Homo sapiens: one gene and its partners. The protein of the gene in region 2 purifies or fractionates together with the protein of the main gene of each other region. This does not show direct contact. Each region holds a gene or a part of one and is shown on either strand. Other genes may lie near its edges. The genes, in order: RPP30, SMYD2, AKAP11, GSKIP, EIF4E, AHI1 and ARL1.

Region 1 (3,500 bases), on a different chromosome or scaffold from region 2:
TCTTCTACTAGATGAAGACTAAAAATAATCTTGTGCAGCCTTTCTTTCCACTCCATCATCTAGTTTTTATTAAACAACATATGCAAAATGTTCACACCAGATTTTTTTTAAAGCAGACACCATGTTAAACTGCATATCCCTCTCACTTGACAGAATTTTTTACTTTTCAGAATTCTTAAATTGAAAAATGTAGGAATTAAGCGAAAAATGCCCATCAAACGAAAGGAGCTTTCCTGAACTTCCCAATGGAATCAGGGGGTGGGGTGTCCTGGTGTCAACTGTCTTGAGTGCCACTGTCCTCCTCATGTTGCCCCACTGCCCCACTTCCCTCACGGCATATACTTCCTGATGAATGTGGACATCCAGCTGGTGACTAACAACGAGCAGAATTTGGCCAGGTCCCCTATGCTGTACCCTGATATGCTAAGTTCAACATGTACTTATTGACTCAACAAACTGTAAGGAGGACTCATTATACGCAAGATAGTGGAGTACTTAAAAAAGGACCATGACAGCCGGTGTTCTCTAGGAGCTCACACTCTGGTTTAAATAATAATACAAGTTCCTAAGAACCCCAATTAAAAGCTCTCACCAAAGCAGCCACTGGGAATCTTACCACTGTCGTGAGACATGAGGAATTATCTGTTGTGCATTGCTGTCCATTCCATGGACTTGGCCTTAACATCACATGCTAGCTCCTCCCATCAAAGGTCACAGTATCGTATGTGGGCTTATTCAGGCAAAGCCATCTAGAAAATGACCTTCCTAGTTCATTAAGATGAAGAAAAAGGTGAAAAAGTTGCAAGTTCACTAGCAATTTGCTGAGTAGCTATAGTGCCCAACTCTGGGGGTGCTACTTCCACAGAAACTGTATTGGCAGTTTGAGGCTGGTAAAAAGGTTAGGCAAACTTCTAAAGACAGAGATTGCTACCTCTGGAGAGAAACAATATGTGAGGCCAACAAGACTGCCATAACCTTGAGTACTGTATTAATTTGTGGCTTTTATCATAGGTACCTGGGGCACATCAGAGATCTTGACAGACAACCAATCAGAACTTTCCTAACCCTGTGTGACTACAGAACTGAATGACTTCTTGTAGTTTTTCATTTCCCCACATTTGACAAATGAACTGTTGCACAACATAGATTTCCAACTCGAAAATGTGGTGATTCAGTGGTTTTTCACTGTTTACTTATTTATTTATAAGTACTGGCAATAACACAAGGAACCAATGATTTGAGCTCAGCCAATATTGTTATGTTCACTAGTACTGTCAATATTTACCCTAGGCCGGGTGTGGTGGCTCACGCCTGTAATCCCAGCATTTGGCGAGGCTGAGGCGGGCGGATCACAAGGTCAGGAATTTGAGACCAGCCTGGCCAACATGGTAAAACCCCATCTCTACTAAAAAGAAATACAAAAATTAGCCGGACATGGTGGTGTGCACCTGTAATCCCAGCTACTCAGGAGGCTGGGGCAGGAGAATTGCTTGAACCAGGGAGGTGGAGGTGGAAGTGAGCCGAGATCGTGCCACTGTACTCCAGCCTGGGTGACAGCAAGACTCCGTCTCAAAAAAAAAAAAAAAATTTACCCAACAAGAGCTTTTATGTTTTTCCCTTGAAATATATGATGATATATTTTTAGTTTGAGTAGCATATTTTTAGGGGTAGAACATAAGCTAACTTAAACTTTTCCCCATTGGGTGGGTCAGGCATGGTGGCTCATGCCTGTAAGCTGAGCACTTTGGGAGGCTGAGGTGGGAGGATTGCTTGAGCCCAGGAGTTTGAGACCAGCCTGGGAAACATGGTGAGACCTCAACTTTACAAAACATAAAAAAATTAGCCAGGTGTGGTGGCATGCACCTGTAGTCCCAATTGCTCAGGAGGCTGAGGTAGGAGGATCACTTGATCCCAGGAAGTTGAGGCTGCAGTGAGCTATGATCATGCCACTGCACTCTAGCTTGGGCAATAGAGTGACACCCTGTCTCTACTACTACTACTACTACTACTAATAATTTTTGCCACACTGAATTTTCACATACTAATTTTCCATTTTCTCCTCTTACTGTCTCCCTCTAATTCTCAAGCCAATTCCTTAGCACCAAAGAGAATTAAAATTGAGAAAGTTATGATTCTACAGAGGCAAAAGAGCAAGGGAATTATCCTTTGAAAAACTTAAAAAAAATTAATCTTCTGATTCTGACAGGATTGGATATGTAATTTTGACTGTATTTGCTAAACTCTTTTTTTTCTCCTTGGATACCAGTTTTTGAGAACAGGAGACTAGGGTTTTGGAAGCCACTACTCTAAAATAGCATCTGAACTCCTCCTAGGATCTGACTGGCAAAGCAAATAGTTAACAGCTGTGCTGACCTTTTGCTACTAAAATAGTTACTGGTGTGAAATAATATTACCTTATGATGGAAATGGGAGGAAATTAAGACAGAAGAAGGAATGGACAGATAGAAGATGAAGGGTATGGGAAAACAAGAGAAAACTATGTAGAAGGGGAATGAGAAAAATTCTATAGCAGAGGGAGAAACAAAAAAGTTTTCTGAACACATGGCCATCCTATTAGGTTCATATAAAAGTAACTCTGGGCTCTTTGTGAATAAGCATGCTTCAACACAGATTTTAATTTTGCATAGACCACGTCTATGTGATGCCATGCCCTGTTCCCTCTTGACTCTCTTTAGCTTCCTGGTGCCTCAAGGATCCTCTGCTTTTTATTTTTTCCCTTCCTCTTCTTTTTTGACTGCTCTGTTCCCTTAATAATTGATGTTCAGGTTATAAGTACCCATGATTATTAGCTATCCTCTTAAGAAATATCCTTTATAAATTTTGGGTTCTATGGCCTTTTAAAAACATCTTAATAATTAACTGGATATTTTTAATTTTAAGCTTTCTTTCTCCCTTTGTTCAGCTTTCAAAACGAAAATTCTCTTTTCTAAAACTGCCTCCTATTCCCTAGCCTTTGTTTTTCCTTCTAAGAACACTGATTTCTTCTGCTTCTTTTCCAATTTGCTAATGTAAGTTTCTAAGATTCAAATACAGAATGGAAAGTACACTTACCACATTAATAGGAGGTCTTTTGAAGTAAAATGGTAGTTTCTCTGTTACAGTTATGCAGACTAAATCCACATCTAAATGTGTGCAAGCAATCTGTAAAGAAGAAAAAAATAGGTAAGGCCAAAAGGAAAATTGGCACAAGTAAGAATGGGAGATAGGGTCAAACTCGATATAAAGTATGGTTCACTCCATAGGTGTTTTGATGGTTCTGTGTTGAAATACATCTGACCTTTTACAAAGTCAACTGTTTTGCTACTCTTTTAGGTTTGGTTTAAATGGTTTAACTGTAATCCAGCAAAAGCGGAATATGTCCACAGACTTTCTCAAAAGATAGGGCCTGGAGACTCTCTAACTCATATGGTCTTCTACATAAGGATGGGTTGCAGAGCGAGGCTCAGTTTCTGGAAGGTTACTTCAGACTGTCCCAGAAA
Region 2 (2,237 bases):
GCGTTGGTTGGTAAGGAAAAACATTTTTTTCCTTCCCAAGCATACCCTGGAGTTTTTCCAAAAAGGAGAGTACTGCACAGAACAATCAACAGAATGAGAGATGGCAAGTCTGCTTTCAGACAGATGGGGACAGAAAAGCCAAGAAAGCAAAGCACGCACTAAGCACCTTTACACACTGAAGGAATACCAGGCACCAGAGAACAGATTCAAAACCTCGCCTGCTGGAGGGCACTTGGGTCACTGGACTGTTCCTCCACCACAGATAGATGATAGTTTTCTTTCCTTCGTGTACCTTTTTCTCTTTCTTCCCATTTTCTTCCTCCACAGGCACAGCCCCACAAGAGCAACTGCAGAATAAAGAGGCTGCCCGACCCCAGTCCCATGGAGAAGACTTGAGCTTGCTGAATTATGGACAGCAGGTGTCACTTTCACTCCAAGACTGGGCTCCCACCACCACTGAGAAATCCTCCCCAGAGACAGAAGAAAATACAAACCTCAAATACTGATATCTCTTTAATACTTTCATCATTCAAGTTTGTTCAGAACATTACAAGAGGCATGAAAGAAAAAATAATTCCATTTTTAAAACTCTGTCTGTCCAAAGTATAACATATGAAACCATGCCATTATCTCTTAGGAAACAAAAGCATTCAAAATTAATTTGGTATTAAAGTTCAAGATTCAGACTAACCTCAAAGTACGGCATGTGCAGTGTTTAAGTGCAAGAAGTATTTTCATTCCAATTATTTTACAGAGATGCTGGAGTGACGTGTGCAATTTGAAATATTCAAATCCTTTAAGGTTTCTGAACTAAGTGTTTAAATGAAAACTGAAATGCTGCATAGTTTCAGTGGCTTTCAATTTCCTGTTTGATCTCAGAAATATATGGATGATCTTTGCCGTGAGCTACTTCCATGATTGCAATGGCCTAGGAAAAAGCAAGACAAACAATGAGAGCCTAGAAGCCAATCTCCTCACACCTCCACCCAGGGTAACTTTAAGTTGGATCTCTCTGCTTTAAGGCACAGGATGCAAACTGGCCATTAGAGCCTATGTTCTCCACCAGGACCTGTTTTTATTTTAATTTATTTATTTATTTTGAGACGGAGTCTCGCTCTGTCGCCCAGGCTGGAGTGCAGTGGTGCGATCTCCGCTCACTGCAAGCTCCGCATCCCGGGTTCACGCCATTCTCCTGCCTCAGCTTCCCGAGTAGCTGGGACCACAGGCGCCCACCACCATGCCTGGCTAATTTTTTGTATTTTTAGTAGACACGGGGTTTCACTGTGTTAGCCAGGATGGTCTCGATCTCCTGACCTCGTGATCCGCCCGCCTTGGCCTCTCAAAGTGCTGGGATTACAGGCATGAGCCACCGTGCCTGGCCTTGGTTTTTTTTTAAAAAAGGAGAAGACCATCTGGTAGCTAACTCATCCAGTGTCTACTGCTAGGTAAAACATTCTGCAAAAATATCCAGCTGGAGAAACGATGTCATGAAACTGATTTCATGACATTCTCTTGCCCCAAGATTCTAGATCTTTCAGTAAAACATGCTTTAAGGACTAATTTTTTTGATTATGTTCAACCCAGAAAATAGGTGATGCTGGTAAAGTCCATAGTGAATTTTATATCAAAGCTATTTTGATTTTTAGTTGACATTACTAACCTGCAAGACGTAGCTAAACTATTTTTCCCTTTCGAAAAGCATACTCTTTCCTTTTAATACATATTCTAAAAACTTAAAAGAAAGGTAGCAGGTTTCATTGAGGGATGCTAGAGAATGTACTTAAGGTTTCTTTATAGTGAGGCAATGTAACATGGTCAAGTTTCCAGTGGTTTAATCATTTCCTAGCTGTGTGGCCTTGGGTAATTTACTTAACCACTCTGTGCCTCATTTTCCTGAACTGTAAAACTGGAATAATACCTACCTCTCAGGGTTGTTAATTCAGATACAGTGTTTCGAACAGCGCCTGGCATACAGGAAGTTTATATCAAATGTCATCTCTAAGAATGTATTTGCTCTTTTGTATTCAGCCAAATTACTCAGAGAAAAAAGTATTCCCCCAGAGAATTTTTAATGGCCTGTGACTATGACAGGCATTCCTATCTATTATATATTCTCCTCCTAGATCTCAAGCCAAGAGGAGGCAGGCCAAGTAACAGTGCAAGCCTTCGGAAATCACCTGTTCCAGGTGCCGACTCTGCCCAGGCATTCATTTCAAGACTCATGTTCCTTGCTCAGA
Region 3 (3,500 bases), on a different chromosome or scaffold from region 2:
ATTTTCTGAGCCTAAATGCATTTATCCATGTTAAACATAATTATTTTAACCTCAGCTTGATTTGGTCTTTTTAACCTTTGTTCTGTTAATGAGATTCTTTTTTCAGCCTGTGTTGAATCATCCACAAATGAGTATTCCACATCATTAATAAATAATGCTAAGGAGGACAGAACCAAGGACAGAAACCGGTAAGACGACTCCTTTTTCTCATCAAATTAGATAATATTCAGCACAGAGTTGTTCAACTGACTACAAGTCCTCTTAATGCTTAAAGCCTCTACCCACACCTCAATCTCCCATTTTAACGCCAGGATTTCCTAGGCAACACTGTCAACCCCACTGAAATCATAGAAGCCTGTGTTTCTCAAAATGAGAGAAGAAACTAAATGTTAGTATCCTTTTCTAGATAAAGTTATAGAAAAGGGCCAAATCATGATTTGTGACATTGCCCCCACTTGCTTCTACCAGTTTTAAACACTGTCTTTTTGGACCTAGATTTTAAGAAATATTGGTGGTTTATATAGCACCATAATAAACTATGACAAAATATACTTTACAAAAATATTAATATTTCCAGGTTAATCCAAGCATCGAACAAAACTCTTCGAGATGAAGTGTTCTATCAGGTGAAAAGCCATTTCCTTTCCTTATGCTACCTCATTCCCTTTTCCAAGAGTTGCCTTCCCTCCCACACCTAGTTTGCCATTTCCAGGGGCTAAGTTCAACTGATGGTCCACAGGTCCTTTCCACACATGCCTGAAACCAGCAATATGCTAAGAACCCTTTCCTCCCTCAAGACTCTGCTACAAATGGTATCTATTATTTCCAGTTATCACTTAATGTGGATAAAGAGTTTATAGAATTTTATAGGTTAGTCAGAAATGCCTTTAGGTAGAGGTTAAGACTATAAGAAACAACTGTCTCATAATTAATAAAATATTTCAAACACCACTGTTATGAACAAAGTTAACTAAGAAAAGTTATATATGAGGTAAGTGCCTTGTGCTATACAAAATCACATTTTTATAATGGCTTTGACTTACGTATTTTCAATCATTCAAGCATAAGTCTTCCAGGTCATTTTGTTCCTAACAGCAGGACAAGCAGGGACCCTCGCCCCACCAAAAAGATACTATTTTAACTAATGTCAGGAAAAGTACAGGGCTACTTTGATGCCTTTTACAGATACCTGTCCTTTTTCTTGTTCTTTAAAGAAAAAAAAGTACCCTTTTTAAAGTGAAAAAAAAAATTTTTCCTCAGAAGTTCATAAAAAGTTTGGGAGAAGCTTAAAAGGCATAAAATTAAATGTATGCAATATTTTTCAAATCAACTATTGGCACACCCCAATAAAATTAGCTGGGCTACTTACTGTATTAAATAAGTGTTAAAAACAATTAGAAATACATTGTGAATAATAAAATACATTTTGAAAGTAATAGCATATTTTCAAATTTAGAATTTTTAAATAATAATGTAAATTTATAGCTCACTTCTAAGATCTGAGGACCTAAACTACACAATTATATGCAAAAGTGTAGTTACCTTTCACTTAGATGATGAAAACTGCTGCTTTCATCTTGGTGTTCATCTTCAAAACTTAAATTGGACCAGCTACCAGTGCTGTCATCACCAATACTGAGGTTCATCTGCTGGCTACTGACAGACTCGGTTGACTGAAAGTCTTCTATTTCTTTTGAACTAAAAAGAAGAAAAAAAGAAAAAAAATCAAATTGAAAGCATCCCAGATTCTGAACTTACAAGACTATCAATTTGATGACAAAGATGATAAAAACAAGAAATGGTATTCGGAATCAGACCAGTGGCTCATGTAATCCTTTATTTGAGTCTGCCAACAAACAGACTGTAGGATAGCGTATTAATTTCAAAGTTAACTGAGGTACCCACCAACAGCCATAACTTACTTTGTTAATCTACAATGGATCTATCCCTAGGGCATTATTTCTCTAAATTCTACTTAAAGCAGTTCATTTTTCAACTGAGATACCATGGGGCAGTACAAGTTCCTAAGTTATCATCTGCTTTGTAAAACAGTACTTTTATTTATGTTAAAGGAGTCTCTTTCTGGCTTTAAGAACAAAAAAGTCGTTCAAGAAATTCTAGTATTGTCAACCAAGCCTGTATTCAAACTAACCAAATCTCTTCAAGATTTTGAACATAGATCATAACCCCTTTCATTTTTCTCAATAAGAGGCATTTATACTTTTATTCCATCATCACAAGAAAGTCCATTCACTGCTCAACTATTTTAATTGTCCCACTACATTTTATGTTCAACAAAGTAGTTCAAAGTGATGTTTCCATAAAAAGAAAAAATGTCAGTCTTCGGATCAAAACCTTCCAATGGCTTCCCACCAAGCCGAAGAGCCCAAATCCTTAAAACATACTGCCTGTCCCCTCTTATAACATCCATCTGAACTCCTACTGTTCTCCCTGGCCCACTCCTCCTATGTTCTCCCTGGCCCACTCCTCCCACTTCAGCAATACAAGCCTCTCTGTTGTTTCCCAAACATGCACAGTCCCACCCCTAGGCCTGGAAATCTGTTCTCGGTGACTCCCACATGACTTATTCTCATTTCACTTTTGGTTTTTGGCTCAAGTATCACTTTGCCAGTATTGTTTCCCCTGCTACCTATCCAAAACTGTAAACCAGCCCTAATGGCCACCGCCACTGTCACCACCAGCACTCTCTAACTCCCTAACTCCCTACCTTGCTTTATTTTTCCCCCAAAGCACTTATCACTATGTGACATACTATATATTTTACTTACCTATTGTCTTATTCCACTATAACATAAGCTCCAAGAGAATGCAGATTTTTGCCTGTTTTACTTACTTCCGTATCCCTAGTGCTATCCTGAGAATAGCCCCTGAATTGCCCCCCATTTTTTCAGCTATTCTAATTTTGTAAGATACAGAATGATACTGAGCATTCCAAGCATAGGCACATTATAGTTCTGAACCATTGATAGATTACTACTTTGTTTTTTTGAATACTTTTCCTAATATGTGCCACATTCTCATGGTTTTTGGCTGAAATGACCCAAAGGATGAGGTCCAGAGAAGAGTTTATAATGACTGTGAGGTTATTTTGGCTCGGAATGATAGCTTAGAATATAATCGTTTTGTTGGCTAAAAATGCACTATCAGCCAGGCACGGTGGCTCATGCTTGCAATCTCAGCACTTTGGGAGGCTAGGGCAGGAGGATTGCTTGAGCTCAGGAATTCAAGATCAGCCTGAGCAACATAGTGAGATCTCATCTCTACAAACAAACAACAACAAACAAAAATGAATAAAAATGTACTATCACATAATTTCCCAATTGCATTCACATGCCACCTCTCTGTTCATTACAGTTTGTGAAATATTTATGGTCATGTTCATGAATCAAACAAAAAGGGACATCAGGTGAAATAATACCTTAAAGAATAATCCATCTGAATGAATCTCCTTTCAAGTTTGAAAGACAAATTTAACTTTA
Region 4 (3,500 bases), on a different chromosome or scaffold from region 2:
ACTGGAATTGCAAGTGTGAGCCACGACACCTGGCCTATCTGCTGGTTAAGTTCTTTAAACAGACCAGGTAAAATGGAGGTTTTAATATCTAGATTCTCATGTATATCTGTGTAGTTTTATTAATGTCCTCTCCTCTTGTTCCTCATTGCTCTTTCATAGTAGTAACAAGAGAAAGCTCACTTCAGTCATTTCAAATCCAAATGTAACAATGCAGAATTAAAAAATGGAAACAAGCTCTTGGAATTAATCATTTATCACAAAATGAACAATTTCAATTCTTAAACATACAATCACTTTTTTTCATACTAACTCAAAATGAGTAAACAGAATTTTATTCAAACTTTACAAATATCATTTACATTTAGCCTGAGATTAAACATGAGAAAGTTCAACCTGAAGTTAGACTTCGTTGCCCAGTTAAGCATCTGAAAATAAAGCTGAGAATGAACATACATCATCAAACAAAGCATTCCAATGAAGTCTGGCAATGAATTGTGACACAAACTGAACTTTAATTTGCTCTGGTCCACATGATCTTCAGAGCCTAAAAGTTCCTGTTTTTTAATAATGATGGAAAAATATCTGCAAATGATAAATGCATGAAGGTATGACCAGATGCAAAATTTTAGTTCAACATTTCTATAGCAGCTGCTTTAGGTGACCATTAAAAAACAACTCCCCAATCCTTACTGTTCAACATGTACTTGAAAACATGCAGCAGCATGGTACAGTTTATTAAATTTATAAATATCAGTACCTGTAATAAAATATAAAATACTGACTATTCCTTTTTCAAATATTAAGTCTCTGAATGCTTCATTCATCCTTTGGTTTCAAACCCATACAATGCACTCATATTACATTGTAGATTTCGAATGGAGACAGAACACTGTACATCTGTTGGGGAAGGTGGGGTGCTGTAGGAATACCAAAGCACTACATCATAGAAAGTAAACGTTGAAGCAAAAATACTTTCTGAATATATACTGTACATTATGTAAACACACATTCAGAATAAGAATCAACACAGGCCAAAATATTGTTTTCTAGGAAACCAGAATCTTCTTTCTTTTAAATCACACACTGAAGATGCTTTTTTGTTAAGAAAAAGAATGAAGTCTGTTCCTGTATTTGCTTATGTGCTTAGATATCTTGGAAATGAGTAATTATTACATTCATTTGCTAACGGTTTATCCTCTGCTTAGTTGGCTGGCTGTTGCAAACACGGAATACAGAACTATTTCAGTCCCTGTTTTTCATTTAATACTAGTTAAGTAATATATAATTAATTCATCTTTATTAATCCATTATTAGTAATATAAATAGATTAAGTGAAGCAGTGAATTTCAAAATTTGTGCAGGGGAAACTAGTTGATAATTTGTTTCCAATAAGGCTGGTAGCAATTAATTACTACAAAGTTTGTCCAAGCTAGTATTGAACCCCTGATTTAGCAGGCTGAATCAAAGTGTATAGTTAGGTACTTCTAATTCCTCTATTACTGTGCAAATCTAGAATTTCCTATGTAAAAGACAGTGCTGGCAGCATCAAAGCCCTGTAATAGTATGAAATAGTGATTAGGATTTGAAATGAAGAGATATTATATGAAGACATGTGAATGTCTTAATGATGGTATCATAGCAACGGCCTCAGAATTCCCTTACTGAAACAGAAACTAAGACAAATCATTATTCAATAATCTTCTGAGCCAAAAGCCTAAGTTGGAAGCAAGTGATAAAAACACAAAACCAAAGATGCATTTTCTATGACCATATGCAAGAATTTTAAGCTTTATATCAACATTCTGTACCAGCACCAGCCCCTCTGAAAGGAAAAAGTGTAGTCATGACTGTCCATCTCTTTTCAAAGCTTCCAGTCTTTGAAGCAGTGCGTTTCCAAATGCTTCTCGGTAGGCGGGGCTGAGTGTATCCAACAAGGAGTAGACTGTTTCATGGTAGGGAGTCTGTAAATGATCATCTACCTGGTCAAAAGCATAGCCTACCACCTACAAGAGAAATGCAACAGTGAATTCATTAGTTTTCATGTTGGTACAGAAAGCAAAATCCAAGTGTTTATGTGAGTAATCATCCTTTCAAAAAAATAAATTATTTCTTTTCCTAGCCACTAGACCACCAGATACATGGGTAACTGAGTGAAACTATTTCTCAAAGTCAGAGTATACACATTTTAAATACAACCTTTAATACTTCAGCAACTTATAATGTATAACACAGAAACACCACTAAAATGCTCCCTATAGAATTTTCAACATTTAAAAGGTTTTACTTAGAAGCTCAAGGAAATGCAGAGAAAGAATTTGAAAAGCTACACAAAAATGGTATTTCATTTTCATATTCTAAAACATGCATCTATTATTTACCCCATTTAATTCCACATATATTGAGGGTCCACTATATTAAGTACTATAATAGGTAATATATCATTAGTTCATATTTTTTTCATTATTTTTCACTTCTTTTATAAACAATTCTAAAAATTATTCCTAATAATTTAGTTTTAATAATTAGTTGTTAATTTTAATAATTGTTTATTAATAATTGGTTTAATAGTTTATTAGTTTTAATAACTGTTTAGCTTTATTATTAGTAATCTGAAAGGCCACTTTCACCTAATATATTTCTTACCTGACAGGGAATAAATGCTCAATTCTGTGAGATAAAAGAACATGTTAATGTGTTTTTTTTTTCTTGGTAGGGGTACACTATTTCTGGAGGTATTTGCAATACCAGGTCGATGTGTGAAGTTAATGGAGCAAGAGCCTATTCTATCTCCCTGCTCCAAAAATCCATTTAATATATTGTCCTTAGATAGAGGACATAACAGATATTAAACTGATAAGAAAAGATACTCCAATTGATCTTAGGCAAAAGGCTGACAGGCCATGTGTTTTTCTTTTTTTTTTTTTCCTGTGAACACAGCTACAACTTTTCTTTTTGACAAGATTATAAGGTATATCATGGTTCACCAGCACAATATAGGGCAAAATTAATTTAGTTTTTGCTGACTTAAGTGTGTACATTCCCTATATAAATCCTAAATTTTTATGACATCTATTTAAGCCATAGGAGGTGAAAGTTTGTGTTAGAAATAGAAGCTGAGTTTTTTTTTTTTTAAATGAAAAGCAGAGGCAGACACCTAAGGAAAATGAATCACACCTCTTCAGATCCATGCTCTATTACTGCACTCTCTACAGTGGAGTACAGTTCAGTTTGCCTTCTTCCTCTTATCTCTGCTAGACTGTGATCTTCCTGGTGGACAGGGATCATGTCTTATGCATGGTTTGATTTTCAATTGCTGACACAGGATAGTTGCTCAATAAATGTTAACTGAATCAGACTGAAAAACAAACAAATATTTGAGCACCTACTACATGTCAGGTTTTACATATGGTTCAGATCTTTCTGTATCATACAGTCATATAATCATTCCCCAAATCGTTTTAAGTTTTTTTTAAATCTCCAAGTTATAGATTAAGAAGCAG
Region 5 (3,500 bases), on a different chromosome or scaffold from region 2:
CTGTCTCTACTAAAAACACAAAAATTAGTTGGCAGTGGTGGCGCACACCTGTAGTCCCAGCTACTCAGGAGGCTGAGGCAGGAGTCACCTGAACCCGGGAGGTGGATGTTGCAGTGACCCGAGATCGTGCCACTGCACTCCAGCCTGACAACAGAGTGAGACACCATCTCAAAACAAAAACAGAAACAAAAAGACTAGCAAAAAAAAAAAAAACAAAAAAAAACATTAACCCACAGAAAAATTCTAATTCTATACAAGAGTAAATAACTATCTTTCAAAGTTTAAAATACAGAGCGACAAGCTTTTCTAGGATAGAATCATGTATCTAACCAAACTGGACATATCCAGTTATACCTTATAAAGTTGAACTAAATACAATATGTATACATACATTTGCACACACCAGAATTTCTAGATTCTTTTTCTTTTTTTTTTTTTTTTTTGAGATGGAGTCTTGCTCTATCACCCAGGCTGGCGTGCAGTGGTGCAGTCTTGGCTCACTGCAACCTCCGCCTCCCAGGTTCAAGTGATTCTCCTGTCTCAGCCTCCCGAGTAGCTGGGACTACAGGCACGTGCCACCACACCCAGCTAATTTTTGTATTTTTAGTAGAGATGGGGTTTCACCATGTTGGCCAGGCTGGTCTCCAACTCCTGACCTCAAGTGCTCCACCTGCCACAGCCTCCCCAAGTGCTGGGATTACAGGCGTGAGCCACCATGCCCGGCCAGAATTTCTAGCTTCTGAGGCCATACTGCACAATTAGGTAGCCATTACCTACATGTGGTTAATTATTAATATTAAATAAAGTTTAAAATTTATTTCCTTGGTTGCACAAGCCACAATATCCAAATGCTCAATTACCATGTACAGCCAGTGGCTACTGTATTGGACAGTAAAAAATACCCTTTCCATTATCTCAGAAAGTTCTCCTGGACAGACTTTTTCTAGTAGAATCCTCAAAAAATTGTAATTGGGCAATTTGGAAAGGGGAATGAGGTGGTTGGGGAAGATAGGCAGGAGATAGGTTTTCCACATTAGACAGAACTTAGCCTGTGCCAGATAATGTCCTTAATATGACTCATGCTAATTCAATCCTTGTTGTACTTCAGTATAAATTGGTTTCCTTTGTAAACCTATGCATTTTATGTAATACATGTTAAAACATTCTTTTTTCTTTTTTTTTTTTGAGACGGAGTTTCACTCTTGTTGCCCAGGCTGGATGCAATGGCACCATCTCGGCTCACTGCAACCTCCACCTCCCAGGTTCAAGCAATTCTCTTGCCTCAGCCTTAGCTGGGACTACAGGCACCCATGAACACGCTCGGCTAATTTTTGTATTTTTAGTAAAGATAAGGTTTCACCATTTTGGCCAGGCTGGTCTCGAACTCCTGATCTCAGGTGATTCGCCCATCTCAGCCTCCCAAAGTGCTGGGATTACAAGCATGAACCACTGTGCCTGGCCTGCATTTTAAAACACTCTAAGATAGGGGCTATAGGCTTTACCAAATTGCTATTTTGGACCATGAGTATGTAACTAAGTCAAAGAAAAAAAACAAAAAATAAAGAAAAGCTAAATACCATGATGTATAAACCAACATCCAAAACAGATTTTACAATCCACAACATGGTAACAAAGTATACAAGTTCAAATGAAAAAAATTTAACCCTCCTAATCCCACCATCCATAAACCATCTGGCATATTCTTTCAGTTAGAATTTTACACTTATTTGTGTACCTACGCATCAGTATCAACCCTAACATACAAGTTTTACTGAAGGATGGACTTTAGTTTTGGTTGAATTTGTTCCTCTTTTTACACAAGATAGTAATAAAGCTTGACACTCAGGTTTGAGTTCTCTCTCACTTATGTTAATTATGAGTTCTATAAAAATAACTTGCCTTGCTAAAAATTAAAAAAAAATTTTATATTCAAGTGCTATTCCTTTTGCGGCACCAAAACTTTGTATGTAACACTTAAGGAACTATGTGACCGTGGTAGAAAGTTAAAAATCACTTGAAATATGAATTCCTCACCTATAAAGTATTCATTTATTCATCAGAAAAAGAACTATAAGAAAAAATATACATTTCACATATCAATTAAAATATCAAACTTTCTTGCCTTAGTTAATACTTCTGACCAGATTTTGTGCCAACATAGGCTTACTGCCCCATAAGAAGTTTCACGGCAATACTAATATGTTGACATATATATGTAGACATATATATCAAAATTAGTTACAATATTTTTTTCTGTGCTCTGCTCATTACAATGACAGTAATGGAGTGCAATGTCATCATCTCGGCTCACTGCAACCTCCACCTCCCAGGTTGAAGCAATTCTCTTGCTTCAGTCTCCCAAGTAGCTAGGACTACAGGCACCCGTGACCACGCTTGGCTAATTTTTGTATTTTTAGTAGAGATTACAATGACAGTAATGAGCAGAGCACAGAAAAAAATATTACAACTAATTTCTGTATAGCATTTTGTAGTAACAAGCTTAAAATACACCAAGAAACACGTATGTGTACATTTTAGCTTAAACTTTTTCAAAACAACTGTTTTACCCTTTGCCAGACTTATCACCAAAATTACTAAAAGTACTAAGGTAGTTAAGTCTAGAATAAATCCAAAATTCACAAACTTTTAAAAATGTACTAAAACTTTTTTCACTAGCAAAATATTTTAACTGGGAAATCATACGAACTAGCAAATGCCAGAAATCAAATTAGAAAGGGGGAGAAGGTTAAGTGTCCATCCACTTTCTTTAGAAATCCACAAAGTTCTCAATTAGTTACTAAAACACGATTGGTGTAATTGCTTGGTTTAGTCCTCAAGATTATATATTTTTGTTATCTAACATTGTAATATAACAGGGCCTAAAAATAAATGCCCACACGTTTTATTTTATAGCTGTAGCAAAACACATAGTAAGCTTATCAAAACACATCTCCCCTTCTGAAGTCACCCAAGCAAAGCACATTACATGCCTACTTGAAAGAGTGCAACGGTTAAGAATATACACTCTGCACTTTGGCTGCTTTAATTTAAACTCCACCCCACCACTTAATAGCTGTGTGATTTTGGAGCAAGTTAGTCACACAATGTTACTTCATCTGTACTGTTAAGAATTAAATGAGTTAGCCTGGCGCGGTGGCTCACGCCTGTAATCCCAGCACTTTGGGAGGCTGAGGTGGGCGGATCACGAGGTCAGGAGTTCGAGACCAGCCTGGCCAATATGGTGAAACCCCATCTCTACTATAAATACAAAAATTAGCCGGGCGTGGTGGCACGTGCCTGTAGTCCCAGCTACTCAGGAGGCTGAAGCAGGAGAATCACTTGAACCCAGGAGGCGGAGGTTGCAGTGAGCCGAGATCGCGCCACTGTACTCTAGCTGGGACAACAGTGAGACGCTGTCTCAAAAAAAAAAAAAAAAGAAATAAATGAGTTAATATATGTAAAGCATTCAGTGTGGTACTTAACATAGAATAAGTGCTATG
Region 6 (3,500 bases), on a different chromosome or scaffold from region 2:
TTCTTCAGATTCTCATCAAGATGATGAAATAAGCTCAATGGAACAAAGCACAGAAGACAGCATGCAAGATGATACAAAACCTAAACCAAAAAAAACAAAAAAGAAGACTAAAGCAGGTTTGCTATACAAATTAAATGAAAAATTGTGTATGTTGGTAGAAATAACTTGATTCTAGGAATTTTAGCCCTTTAAAACTGATGGGTATACTTGAAAATAATTCAATATAGGATATTTGGTACTTGTTCTTGAATTCATCTAGATTAAAGCACACATGTATTTGTAGCTGTAGGTCTCTGATGAGTTTGTATCACTTGAGTCTTCTCTGATTTTTTTTATTTTTGAGATGGTGTCTTACTCTGTCTCCCAGGCTGGAATGCAGTGGCACGATCTCGGCTCATTGCAACCTCCACCTCCCGGGTTAAAGCGATTCTCCTGCCTCGGCCTCCTGAGTAGCTGGGATTGCAGATGCATGCCACCATACCCGGCTAATTTTTGTATTGTTAGTAGAGACGGGGTTTCACCATGTTGGCCAAGCTGGTCTCGAACTCATGACCTCAAGTGATCCACCTGCCTCAGCCTCCCAAAATGCTGGGGTTACAGGCATGAGCCACCATGCCTGACCTTCTCTGATTCTTGTCATACTTTAAATTCAACTCTAAAATGATACTGACTTTGTAGTTGCTATTGGGTCATAGAGGATTTCTTCTTTAAACCATTGAGTTTACATCCTCTAAATGGTTAGGACTCAGTTGTTGAAAGCTATAAATGGTCAGCAGCCAATAAACATTTCTGATGTTAAGGCTGCATCCTGTCCAACATGGTATCCTCCCAATTCGTCAGCCTAATACCACTTCTTTCCTTTCTCAACTTTTCTCTTTGCCTTGTTGATTTCTGTCTTCTTCTTTTCTTGTTTGTTTTCTCTTATTTTTCTTTACATGTTCTTTTCTACTCATACATCCTTTTTTAGTCTTTCAGTTTCCATTTGATTGGCCAAAAATTGGGATTAAAATGGGCAATTTTAGATTTTATAGTACTTATTCATTAGAAGATGTAAGTGATGATGTTTTGTGGTTTCTATAATTAAAATTTTAAAATCTTTTGTTGAAGCATAATGTGTATATAGATATATATAGAAAAGCACTAAGCAGTATACTTGTTTTATGTGTTTCTATATATATAAAGCACTAAGCAGTATACTCATATACATATTTTTAAAGTTTTTTTCACAAACTGAACATACCTATAAAATCATTACCTAAATTTGGAAACAGAACATCATTAGCACCCAGAAAAATCACCTTCCCGTTAGTTGCCCTGTGGGAGTAACCACTACCTGGACATCTAACAGAGTTTATTTTTGCTTATTTTTATACTTTAATATGAATAGAATGATAAATACTGTGCTCCTTGTGCCTGACTTTTTTTACTCAATGTTAATTTTGTAAGATTTATACTACTGTTGCTTGCATACAGTTGAGCTTATTCATTCTTAATTCTGTTTTTGTATTATTTAGATATCCATTGTGTGAATATACCACAGTTAATTTGCCTATTTTATTGATGGTCATTTGAGTTGTTTCTAGTTTTAGGCAATTATAAGTAAAGCGGTAATTCACATTGCAGTCACGTATTTGGTAAGCACATGCATACCTTTATCTTGGGCATATTGTTAGGAGTAGAATTGCTGTCATAGATTATGTATATTTTTTGCTTTAATAATTACTTCCAGTTTTCCAAAGTTGGTTTACCAGTTGACACTAGCAGTGTTTGAGAGTTCCAGTCACTCCACATCTTTACCAACATGTAATACTGTTTTTTAACGTTTTAGTCATTCTTAGGAGTGACTAAATTTTCCTCATTCTTCAGGAATGTATAGTGATATTCATTTTGGTTTTAATTTTATTTCCATGGTAACTATTGAAGTTGAGTGTTTTCATGTTTATTAACTACTTAGATTTTGACATTTGTAAATATATTCAAGTTGTCTGCATTTTTTAAAACACAGAATTGTCTTTTTCTAATTGATTTGTAGTGATAGGTTTATATACCTCAATATGAGATTATTCTCAGATATAAATACCTACCCACATTTATATCGCAAATGTCGTCCTACTCTGGTTTGATTATTTCTCTCTCATTGGTGTCTTTTGAAAAACAGAAATTTTTGTATTGTCCAGTTTATCCATTTTTTTCCTTTGATGGTAAGTGCTGTGATTTAAGAAATCTTTCCTAAGTTCTGAAGATATTTTTCTAAAAGTTTTATTCTAAAAGTTTTACTGTTTCTGTTTTACTTTCACATTTAGATATGCAGTTCATCAGGAATTGGTTTATGTTTATGATAGGAAGCAGTGATCAAGATATCCATGTGAATATATATTATGATTGACCCAGTACCATTTACTGAAGAGAGTGTCTTTTTCCCTCTGTGTTGCAGTGTCACTTTTCCCATAAATAACATGACTGTGTTACATGTGGATCAGTTTTTGTAGTCTCTATTCTTTTAAATTAGACAGTTTGTACCAACACTACCATGTCTAAATACTGTAGCTTTTTAATAGGTCTTGCTATTTAGTATTATACTCTAGGTTTTTCCTTCTTCATCTGCATTGTCTAGGCTATTCTTTACTTTGCATTTCTGTATGGATTTTAGAAGAGCTTCTCCATTCTCCCTCTTCCTTTTTACCCTCATTCTGTCTTGCAAGCTGTGATTTTGATCTAGACTGGGTGAATCTAAAGAGTCACAGCATAACAACTCTCTAAAGAGACTTGACATTTTTACACAGTATTGATTCTCAGGCTATGAATTTGGTATGCACTTCCATTTATTTGCATCTTATTTAATATATCCCAGCAATATACATTTCAGCAGAATCTCTCCTTAGATTTATTCCTGGGATTTGATGTTTCTTAATGATATTATAAATGGCATTTAAAAAATTTTTGTTTTGTATTTGTTGCTGGTACATATATGTAGAAATGTATTTAAAATTTTTTAACATTGTGTCCATTGATTTGCTAAATTCACTTATTGCAAGAGTTTATTTATTTATTTATTTTTGAGACAGGGTCTTGCCCTGTCACTCAGGCTGGAGTGCAGTGGCGTGATCTCAGCTCACTGCAACTTATACTTCCCAGGTTCAAGCGATCTTCCCACCTCAGTCTTCCAAGTAGCTGGGACTACAGGCATGCACCACCATTCTTGGCTAATTTTTGTAGAGACAAGGTCTCACTACATTTTCCAGGCTAGTCTCAAACTCCTGGGCTCAAGCAGTTCTCCCACCTCAGTCTCCCAGAGTGCTGGGATTACAGATGTGAGCTATCGCGGCCCACAGAGTTTATTCTTACATTGTTTGGATTTTTCTACATATGCAATCATGTAATACGTTAATAACGATAGTTTTATCGCTTCTTTTTCAGTCCTTATGCCTTATCATTTTGCTTGCCTTGATACAAATCAAGATTTAATCTCTTTATTATCAATCTTTTTTTTTTTTTTTTTT
Region 7 (3,500 bases), on a different chromosome or scaffold from region 2:
CCTTAATGATTCACTGTTTCTGGTGGATATATGTACCATATCCCTCAGATGTGATGGAGTCAAAAGAATGTTGATAAACATTGGCTGGGCACGGTGGCTCACATCTGTAATCCCAGCATTTTAGGAGGCTGAGGAGGGCAGATCAACTGAGGTCGGGAGTTCGAGACCAGCCTGACCAACATGGAGAAACCCCATCTCTACTAAAAATACAAAATTAGCTGGACATGGTGGCAGGTGCCTGTAATCCCAGCTACTCGGGAGGCTGAGGCAGGAAAATCACTTCAACCAGGAAGGCAGAGGTTCCAGTGAGCTGAGATGGTGCCATTGCACTCCAGCCTGGGCAACAAGAGTGAAACTCTGTCTCAAAAAAAAAAAAAAAAAAAAAAAAAAGAATGTTGATAAACATTGACTCACAGGACCAGGGAGTTTCCAAATGAATTCATTCAGACTTCAGGCTGACAAAATTTATTTATAATCTATGAAATCACTAAATATACTGATAGAAAAGTTGTACACAGACCTGATCATTACATCTTCTTAAACAAATCTTTAACTAGGCACCCCTTAAGAGGAATAAACTTTTTAAACGTGATTTTATTTAACAGTCATGAAATTAATCACTGACATCAAGCAGTAGAAATGGCTAAAATTATAAATAAACTCAAAAGTGATTCAATGGAGTCTCTCTGAGCCTACTCTGGCTTGGGAGGCTGCACAATTTAAAAAAAAAGAAACGTGATTCAAGAAATGAGTTAAAAGAAGTCAGAATGTTTGGAGAATGCATTACTAATCTTTTAAGATGGTACTATCGTGACCAACTACTGACGGTCATCAAACATTCACTGTTGCCATGTCAAGCCCAAAATGCTAAGCAGAAGACCTGAACTTCAGAAGGCATTTATTTTTTATTTATTCATTTATTTTTTTTGAGACAGAGTCTTGCTCTGTAGCCCAGGCTGGAGTGCAGTTGCGCGATCTCAGCTCACTGCAACCTCCAGCTCCCAAGTCCTGGTACAAGCAATTCTCCTGCCTCAGCCTCCCAGGTAGCTGGAATTATAGGCACGCACCACCATGCCCAGCTAATTTTTGTATTTTTAGTAGAGACGAGGTTTCACCATGTTGGTCAGGCTGGTCTCCAACTCCTGACCTGATGATCCGCCCACCTCGGCCTCCCAAAGTGCTGGGATTACAGGCGTGAGCTACCATGCCCGGCCAATGGCATTTATTTTTATATTAGCCCTAAATGGTATGCCTGCAAGGTACTTTAATGAATTCCAAAACAATGTGTTTCAGAGAGGAGAGACTGACAAGAACTAAATGGAGGGTCCTTTCTAATTGAGAATAGCTGAAGTAATAAGGTCTTGAGATTTTCGTGAAAAGATTTTCATTAAACAGGTATCTGGAAAACTGGGCTTCCTTAAGTTTTAACTCAATGGATGCTCTAAGGAAATAGTTCCCAATTTTACCTCATTTTAAACTAGGTGGCTCCATTTAAATTACAATAGAACACATATTCGGGTTTACTGATTTTAACCCTTAAAAGAATCAATAAATGTCAAATACTACCAAATAACCTGGTCTTTGTACCATACCTGATACTTGTCTGTCCTCCTAAATCCCAGACTTGGAATTTAAGGTTTTTGTACGTCACCGTCTCTACATTAAATCCAATGGCTGGAAGAGAAATCAAATCAGTGGTATGTGTAGACTAATACATTCCACCTTCAAAATATCCTATCTAATTGAGTTACAGCAATTAATGGTAACTGTTATTAGAGTTTAAAATATATATATATATAATTTGTCTTAGGATTCGAGTTAAAAAGAAATGGTAATTGTTGAATCACATTATTGGTTGAGATTTTATACCATTTAAGACGAAATAGTATGCTCTGCTCCCCCACACATGTGCAGGTGTGTGCACAAAACATCAATTAGCAAGATCAATACCATCTTCAGGATATTTTTTAAAAGCCAGCAGTTCTGCAAATAAAGTATATAATTTTAGCTCAAATAAATTAAAAAAAGAATTTAAAAAAGAAATAAAAAGGAAAACATAATTTTTAGCTCAATGGAAATCCTATTATATTAAACTCCCCTCATAATAGAGTAGTTAAAAGTGTTCGAAAGCTGTATTTAGAAAGTACAGTTGTGGATGTACTATAAAAAGCAGAATTTTGGCTGGCAGCAAATAAACAGACCAAAAGAAAAAAAGCTAAACTTCAGTTCTAAACTACAGCATGGACACAGCCATGGCTGCAGCTTTCAATCTCACAGCCCATCTGCAGACATCCTCCAGAACTCACTTGTAATAAGGTCATGGCTGGGTGGTCAAAGGGCAGGTGTCCCATCCCTTTTCTCTGCCATCCTTCTTAGGTGAAAAATAGGTAAAAAATAACTTCCATGGCTGGGTGCGGTGGCTCACACCTGTAATCCCAGCACTTTGGGAGGCCAAGGCGGGTGGATCACCTGAGGTCAGGAGTTCGAGACCAGCCTAGCCAACACTGTGAAACCCCATCTCTTCTAAAAATACAAAAATTAGCCGGGTGTGGTGGCACATGCCTGTAATCCCAGCCACTCTGGAGGCTGATGCATGAGAATCGCTTGAACCTGGGAGGCACAGGTTGCAGTGAGCCGAGATCTTGCCACTGCACTTCAGCCTGGGCAATAGAGTGAGACTCTGTCTCAAAAAAATAAATAAATAAAAAATAACTTCCAGGTATAACTGGACAATTAGCTTTTGTTTTATATTTAAGTCTGCAGTGGTAAGTGATACCTTTGAGTATTTGGCAAGTATGTCTATTACAATTAAAAAATAACAATACTATGACAAATTTGAGCAAAAAACTAAAATGCAAGTTCATGATGTCTCCCTTAGAATTAGGTAGGAGTGTAATCACAATGTTCACCAACAGTAAAAAACATCGTTTATATGTGCAAGACAAGAGAATGGTGTAGACTGGGTGCAGTGGCTCATGCCTGTAATCCCAACACTTTGGGAGGCTGAGGTGGGAAGATCGCTTGAGCCCAGGAGGTAGAGGTAGAGGTAGACGCTGCAGTGAGCTATGAATGTGCCACTGCACTCCAGCCTGGGCAAAAAAGCAAGACACTGTCTCAACAAAGAGTGTGGTGTAAAGCAGCACTCACTGAAACTCCAAACTATCCACTGTGCTGCTCTGTGCACTGCAGGAGATGCCCAGACAGAGATGGGTGATTTTGAGAAGCAAAAACTAAGGGCACTAAAATTTACTGAAGGTAGCAAAAAGGAATAACAGACATTACAGGGTTCAAAACGCTCTTCTTTCTTAGAGGCTAGCCTCTTTCGTTTTAGTCCATAAATTTAAACAGTAACAATATAGAAATACCCTGAGTGACAGACTAACATTAGAGGCATAATTTAAAAAATCTTGAGCAAACTGTATGAACTCTTTAATTTAAATGTACTACTCTTCTCTAAGTAAATTCAAGGCAACAAATGAAAAAAGTATAAATAACAACAG

Evidence for each region.
Region 1: the proteins of SMYD2 (region 2) and RPP30 purify together in Homo sapiens (affinity purification with mass spectrometry; one large-scale study listed by BioGRID and IntAct). This does not show direct contact.
Region 3: the proteins of SMYD2 (region 2) and AKAP11 purify together in Homo sapiens (affinity purification with mass spectrometry; one large-scale study listed by BioGRID and IntAct). This does not show direct contact.
Region 4: the proteins of SMYD2 (region 2) and GSKIP purify together in Homo sapiens (co-immunoprecipitation; one large-scale study listed by IntAct). This does not show direct contact.
Region 5: the proteins of SMYD2 (region 2) and EIF4E purify together in Homo sapiens (co-immunoprecipitation; one large-scale study listed by IntAct). This does not show direct contact.
Region 6: the proteins of SMYD2 (region 2) and AHI1 purify together in Homo sapiens (co-immunoprecipitation; one large-scale study listed by IntAct). This does not show direct contact.
Region 7: the proteins of SMYD2 (region 2) and ARL1 purify together in Homo sapiens (affinity purification with mass spectrometry; one large-scale study listed by BioGRID and IntAct). This does not show direct contact.

The regions. Positions count from the first base shown.
Region 1 is NC_000010.11:90,885,474-90,888,973, reverse strand, and holds part of RPP30 (ribonuclease P protein subunit p30), read right to left. Parts: intron 3,163-3,500; coding exon 3,073-3,162; intron 1-3,072. UniProt on the Homo sapiens protein: Component of ribonuclease P, a ribonucleoprotein complex that generates mature tRNA molecules by cleaving their 5'-ends. Also a component of the MRP ribonuclease complex, which cleaves pre-rRNA sequences.
Region 2 is NC_000001.11:214,335,395-214,337,631, reverse strand, and holds the end of SMYD2 (N-lysine methyltransferase SMYD2), read right to left. Parts: intron 929-2,237; coding exon 848-928; 3' UTR 501-847; downstream 1-500. UniProt on the Homo sapiens protein: Protein-lysine N-methyltransferase that methylates both histones and non-histone proteins, including p53/TP53 and RB1. Specifically trimethylates histone H3 'Lys-4' (H3K4me3) in vivo. The activity requires interaction with HSP90alpha.
Region 3 is NC_000013.11:42,306,652-42,310,151, reverse strand, and holds part of AKAP11 (A-kinase anchor protein 11), read right to left. Parts: intron 1,699-3,500; coding exon 1,543-1,698; intron 1-1,542. UniProt on the Homo sapiens protein: Binds to type II regulatory subunits of protein kinase A and anchors/targets them.
Region 4 is NC_000014.9:96,384,026-96,387,525, reverse strand, and holds the end of GSKIP (GSK3B-interacting protein), read right to left. Parts: intron 2,903-3,500; exon of another isoform or gene 2,714-2,902; intron 2,004-2,713; coding exon 1,842-2,003; 3' UTR 238-1,841; downstream 1-237. UniProt on the Homo sapiens protein: A-kinase anchoring protein for GSK3B and PKA that regulates or facilitates their kinase activity towards their targets.
Region 5 is NC_000004.12:98,919,134-98,922,633, forward strand, and holds part of EIF4E (eukaryotic translation initiation factor 4E), read right to left. Parts: intron 1-3,500. UniProt on the Homo sapiens protein: Acts in the cytoplasm to initiate and regulate protein synthesis and is required in the nucleus for export of a subset of mRNAs from the nucleus to the cytoplasm which promotes processes such as RNA capping, processing and splicing.
Region 6 is NC_000006.12:135,459,741-135,463,240, reverse strand, and holds part of AHI1 (jouberin), read left to right. Parts: coding exon 1-116; intron 117-3,500. UniProt on the Homo sapiens protein: Involved in vesicle trafficking and required for ciliogenesis, formation of primary non-motile cilium, and recruitment of RAB8A to the basal body of primary cilium.
Region 7 is NC_000012.12:101,401,273-101,404,772, forward strand, and holds part of ARL1 (ADP-ribosylation factor-like protein 1), read right to left. Parts: intron 1,675-3,500; coding exon 1,593-1,674; intron 1-1,592. UniProt on the Homo sapiens protein: GTP-binding protein that recruits several effectors, such as golgins, arfaptins and Arf-GEFs to the trans-Golgi network, and modulates their functions at the Golgi complex.